Linked DNA regions of Homo sapiens: region 1 is linked to region 2. The links come from fine-mapping of genetic effects on plasma protein levels. Region 2 holds a variant in brackets. A gene starts in the other region. All regions are shown on their reverse strands. Region 1 holds the start of STAU1 (staufen double-stranded RNA binding protein 1). Region 2 has its middle 170 kb from the start of MIR5195.

The links. PIP is the chance, under the fine-mapping model, that this variant and not a neighbour inherited with it causes the effect. Protein levels are from antibody-based Olink assays in UK Biobank. Linkage for the fine-mapping came from a reference panel and not from the study's own genotypes, which makes the PIPs less certain.
Region 1: STAU1 starts here. The variant in region 2 is fine-mapped to the plasma level of the STAU1 protein (UK Biobank, PIP above 0.99).

What each region holds. Positions count from the first base shown.
Region 1 is chr20:49,187,144-49,190,049 of GRCh38, reverse strand. STAU1 (staufen double-stranded RNA binding protein 1) reads left to right here and starts at 1,716. Exons shown (of 14, transcript NM_017453.4): 1 at 1,716-1,934. RefSeq lists silencers at 1,443-2,112, 2,343-2,502 and an enhancer at 2,903-2,906.
Region 2 is chr14:106,678,240-106,681,145 of GRCh38, reverse strand. It overlaps IGH and the pseudogene IGHV1-67. Among named protein-coding and RNA genes, the nearest start is that of MIR5195, 170 kb to the left of the region's middle. The variant G/A (reference allele first, on the strand shown) is at 1,446.

The sequences.
Region 1 (2,906 bases), not on the chromosome of region 2:
TGTTGCTTACTACTGTCTTGGATGGGCACTAAAGGGACGGTGAAAGTCCTTTGACTATTTTTGGTGTTCTGAAATTCAGTGTCATTGCACTTCACAAGAAGCAATGTAAGGAGGCAAGTGTCCTCCCAGGCTTCGCTAAGGCTCCAAAGCCTTGTTTGGAGGGGCCTCTTCAGACACAGCAGCTCGTATTTTGAATTTATATTCCGTTGGCAAGAGAGATTGAGCAATTATTAGATTGAGAGACATTTAAGAAAGAGAGAATTATTTTTAAATAGTGGGGCGGCAGTCCCAGAGTGAGCGGGAGAGAGAAGCTCTGTGCACCTGCAGTTCCTTCATTCATTCTCAGTTTCTTGGACCTCTCACAACGCGAGCATAATTTTCGCTGAGTGTGCAGAAGTTCAAGATTCTTTTTTTTTTTTTTTTTTTTTTTGAGACAGAGTCTCACTCTGTTGCCCAGGTTGGAGTGCAATGGCGTGATCTCGGCTCACTGCAACCTCCGTCTCCCGGGTTCAAGAGATTCTCCTGCCTCAGCCTCCCAAGTAGCTGTGATTACAGGCGCCCACCACTGCATCCGGCTAGTAGAGACGGGGTTTCACCATGTTAGTCAGGCTGGTCTCGAACTCCTGACCTCAGGTGATCCGCCCACCTCGGCCTCCCAAAGTGCCGGGATTACAGGCGTGAGCCACTGCGCCTGGCCAAGATTCTTTACTGGCCACCCTCTCTCCAACCTCCCATACAATACAGCTGCTAAAAACCACTTAGTTTATCTAGGTCTGGGTGAAATAAATAGTAATCTGGCACTTCTCGTCTTTTTTTTTTTTTTTTTTTTTTTTTTTTTTTTTTTTTTTGAGACCAGTGTCTCTTTGTCGCCAAGGCTGGAGTGCAGCGGCGCGATCTCAGCTCACTGCAATCTCCGCCTCCCGGGTTCAAGCGATTCTCCTGCCTCAGCCTCCCGAGTAGCTGTTTACCTACAGGCGCCCGCCACCACGCCCGGCTAATTTTTTGTATTTTCAGTAGAGACGGGGGTTTCACCGTGGTAGCCAGGATGGTCTCGATCTCTTGACCTAGTGATCCGCCCGCCTCGGCCTCCCAAAGTGCCGGGATTAGAGGCCTGAGCCAACGCGCCCGGGCCATTGTCTTTTATCTCACTACACATTTTTCAATTTTATTTATTGTGTATTTTACTTACACAAGAATGTAAGCTCCACGAGGGCAGGGATTTTTGTCAGTTCACCACTACATTCTTAGCTCTTGGAGCAATGCCTTGCATATGGCAAGCATTTAATGAACATTTACAGATGGAGGAAGAAACAACTGCAGGAAGGAGAGAAAGGAAGGCCAGAGGCAGGACAAGAGGAAGAAGCGACAGCAAGGAAGGAAAAAGGAAGTGGAGGAGGAAAGAAGGTAGGCTGGGTTCTCCCAGACCCGCTTCGAGTCCAGCAGGCAGCGCGAAACTCCCACCAGAACTACAACTCCCGGCAGGCCCCGGGACTCAGGACGGGCCGCTGCGGTCCAGGCGGGACAGGGCGCTCCTCCCGCTGGGCCCCCGGCGTGCCTTGCGAGCGCAGGCTCCGCCGCAGTGCCAGCCGGAACTTGTGGTTCGGACCGTGGGTGGGGGTGGGGCCGGGGCCGGGCCTGGAGGCGGGCGGGGGCCGGGGGCGGGCGCCTGCCCCTCCCCCGTCACTTCCTGCCGGGCTGCGGGCGCCTGAGCGGCTCTTCAGCGTTTGCGCCGGCGGCTGCCGCGTCTCTCTCGGCTCCCGCTTCCTTTGACCGCCTCCCCCCCCCGGCCCGGCGGCGCCCGCCTCCTCCACGGCCACTCCGCCTCTTCCCTCCCTTCGTCCCTTCTTCCTCTCCCTTTTTTCCTTCTTCCTTCCCCTCCTCGCCGCCACCGCCCAGGACCGCCGGCCGGGGGACGAGCTCGGAGCAGCAGCCAGGTGAGGCGGCCGGGCCGGGCCGGGCCTGGTGGGGCCCTCGCGGGCGCCGCCGCGGTGGGGAGGTGGGCGGCGGGTGGGGCCTAGGCCTCGGCGGGCCCGCGCACCCCTCCGCCTTCTCCCGGGCCTCTCTCTAGCCCGCGGGGCCTTCCCGGAGGAGGCGGGTCCTCTTGCGTTCCCTCGCCTCGGGGCGCCCTGAGGCCTGGCCCCGGGCGCCCCCATCCCCTCCAGCCCTCACCGGTGCCACAAACAGGTGCTGCGGCCGCCTTTCCTCGTCCCGCATGGCGCGCGCGGGGATGCCGAAGTTATTCCCGGGGCTGGGGCGCAGGCGGGGGGGGGGGGGGGTCCCTGCTTCAGGTCCCCGAGGGCTGGAGCCTCTCAGTGTCGCCGGCCCAGGTCTGTAGCTTAGTGGTTAAGAGCACGGCCCAGGTGTCCAAAACGGGTGCCGAACCCGGCTCTGCCCCGTTAGGCAAGACACTTAAAAAGTCTTTGTGTCTTGGTTGGAAAAGGGGCTGCTAATACCGTCCCTGCCTCTTAAGGTTCAGTGAAATGGGGCGTGTAAAGCGCTTATCAGAGTGCCAGACCCACAGCGTGTCCCAGTAAACCGTCTGCATAATTTATTAGCGTGATATGAAGGTATAATTTAATGGGCAGAGTGGATAGAAGTTGACCTACCTATCCGTTTGGGTTTCTTAGAGGCTGCAGTGTTCCGCGTGCCCATGTCCAGAGCCAGGGCATTGTTTTCAGTTGTTAACATCTGAAAGGGGCGTACGCTTAATTGGGACACTGTAGTTGACAGTCTGTAAACGATGGATGCTGTTTCTTTCCATCTCCGCTTAGGCAACTGCAGGATATTCACCATCTCCCGCAGGATGAGCAACCTGTCCATTTCTCCCCGCCCCGCCATCATCCAGCTTCTTCTTGTCATTCCATTTCTGGGAAAGTTGCTGGCAGAAGCTTCCCTTGAGTTGAGCA
Region 2 (2,906 bases):
AATCACCTGAGGTGAACACTACAGATAACTCTGTGCCCTGAGAGCATCACCCAATAACCACATCCCTCCTCTAGAGAAGCCCCTGAGAGCACAGCTCCTCACCATGGAGTGGACTTGGAGGATCCTAATTTTGGTGGTCGTAGCTGCAGGTAGGATAATTCTCAGTCCCCAGGACTAAGGTGACTGGGTCCAGTCAAAGGGGGTTTTATCCACTCCCGTGTCCTCTCCACAGGTGCCCAGTCCCAGGTGCAGCTGGTGCAGTCTGGGGATGAGATGAAGAAGGCTGGGGCATCAGTGAAAGTCTCCTGCAAGACTTGTGGATACACCTACCTTCACCAGTTACTCTATGCACTAGGTGCGCCAGGCCCATGCACAAGGGCTTGAGTGGATGGGAAGGATGTGCCCTAGTGATGGCAGCATAAGCTACGCAGAGAAGTTCCAGGGCAGAGTCACCATGACCAGGGACACATCCACGAGCACAGCCTACATGGAGCTGAGCAGCCTGAGATCTGAAGACACGGCCATGTATTACTGTGGGAGAGACACAGTGTGAAAACTCATATCCTGAGAGTGTCAGTAACCCTGAGGGAGGAAGCAGCTGTCCCAGTTTTCAGGATATGACAGGATTTATGGGGTTTAATGTTGTTTAGAAAATAGGTTATATAATTGAGGAAAAGAAGAAATAGAAAGATATATGCATTCTAATTATATAAGAAATATTCTTTTCAAATCTCACCCTATAAGCAAAATTAACAGAGTGGGAAAAGCAGCAATCAATCAAGCTGAAACAAACATTCCCATGGAGGATTTGTGGGGGCAGACGTTTTAAAATTGAATGGGTAAATCATTTAGGGCAAGATTGCTTGATCCAATACTAAGACTAAATGTAATTTCTGAGAAACTGCCTATCTTTTTATATTAAATTTATTATAAAGCAGTTTTAGGGTTACAGCAGATGTAAAAAGTAGAAACAGAGAGCTCCCATGTACCCCTGCCCAACACATACACAGCCCTCCCCATGATCAGCTCCCTGAAACAGAGTCCTAACTGCGTTATGTGGGATGAACCTACATGGACACACTAGTTCTTTCCTTTCCTGGTGGTCCCCCGGTATAACAAACATAAATTATTTTGAAGCGCCACGGGTTCTTCAAGTGGGTTACTGGGAATGATGCCAGTTAGAGGGAAAGTGGGTGGGGCCATTCCTTTTTGCACTCTTTCTTCAGGAATCCATAAAATGCACATTGACTTAGAGCTCATCTGACTCCTGGTTTTCTATGCCCCTTCCCAGAGGGTAAGTTCTCCAAGCGTGGGAGGAAGGTCCATTTCACTAAAAGGCCAGAAGCTTCTGGTGAATTCCATAATGCACAACCTTTTTTGAGAAGTGGAGACTTTGGACATGAGGGATTTCATGTATGATGCCCTGGAGTTGGATTAAATACAGC[G/A]TAAGCTCTTGGGGGTATTTCTGGAGGAGGCCCTTTCTGCAGGAAATTAGAATACATGCAGGGGATCCAGGCAGGAAGAATCACTTCCTTTGACATCGTTTGGCACCTGAAGGAAGCCCTCTCAGCATTGGGCACTGGTCCCACTTGCTGGCTGCACTTTAGCCAGAGGCCTGCGCCTGATCATTCTTGCAGTGGGAGAGCCTTACTGGGGTCACAGGTTATAAAAATGCCTGTCACTCTCCAGCTGAGCAAGTCCATATGCGTGCTTGTCAGTGTCAACCCCATGATGAGTGCACTCTGGAAGGTGACAATCTGCACACAAACCTCCTCCCACTAGTTACCCACTACTATACACTACTTTAAAAATTAATACTTATAATTATATAATATAATATATATTATATAACTATATAAAAATGATTATGATGATGACATTTGGCTGTTGCAATTTCTTTAGGATCTCTGCATCTCTCTTCACTAGACATGTAAGTCTTCAATTTCTTGTCCCTGTGACACGTTGCCCAGTGTTTGAAGTCAAAGTTGTGCCGAGTACCTGAGTATGTCCTCAGAGAAGATCTCAGCAATGGTTGATTGTTCTACAGGGACTTTTCCAGGAGACCTGTCCCAGGGAGTCATGAGGTTCCTCTGGAAATACTAGCCCCTGCAGGAGATGAGACGGAAGCAGGAGAATCAAGAGCAGGTGACAACATTGTCAGCAGGAGGCTCCAGATGCTTTCCAGACACAGTGAACCTTCACCCACTTGCCACACTGCACAGGGAGTTTGCAGGGGCACAATGAGGTGCCTGTCTGTGGGATGTTGGGGGACAAAGTGAAAACCTGAGCTCAGCATCCAGGAAAGTATGAACTCCAGCCCTGATAATATGTAGCCTGTGTTTTCTTTCCTTCTACGTGAACACTTTGCCTTATTGTTAAGAACAGAGGATTCTAGCTCTAAGTGCACGGATTGCAGACAGCTATGACTTTCCTCCGGGCCAGGCTCCTCTTAATGTACTTCTTGGACTTATTTGTTGATGAAGGTTGGTTCCATTAAATACCAAAACAGGGTTCATATTAAAGAAAAATGAAAGAGTGACAGGTAGATTAAACCCGAGCATCCAGTTCCAGTGATTCTTTGACCCTGCCTTCCCAAAAATCTCCGATATGAACAATGACAATGCCCTCCATGGTTAGATTATATTATAAACTAGATTGAGCTAGAGTGTTTGGTGTATTAAGTCACTATTTTTTTTAGCTTCCCTGTTAGTTTTTTGTTTGTGTGTTAGCATTTACTTTAAAATTCTATTAATCAGTTCTCTAGTAGGTAGAAATTCATCTGAGAGTTTCTTCTCTTGTTGTCCACTTTGATAAGATTTCCAGAAGACATAAGAACCCTTTTTGTTTGCAAAAATATTCCAAAGTTTTACACTAACTAGGAACATATATACTTAATTCTAATTTTT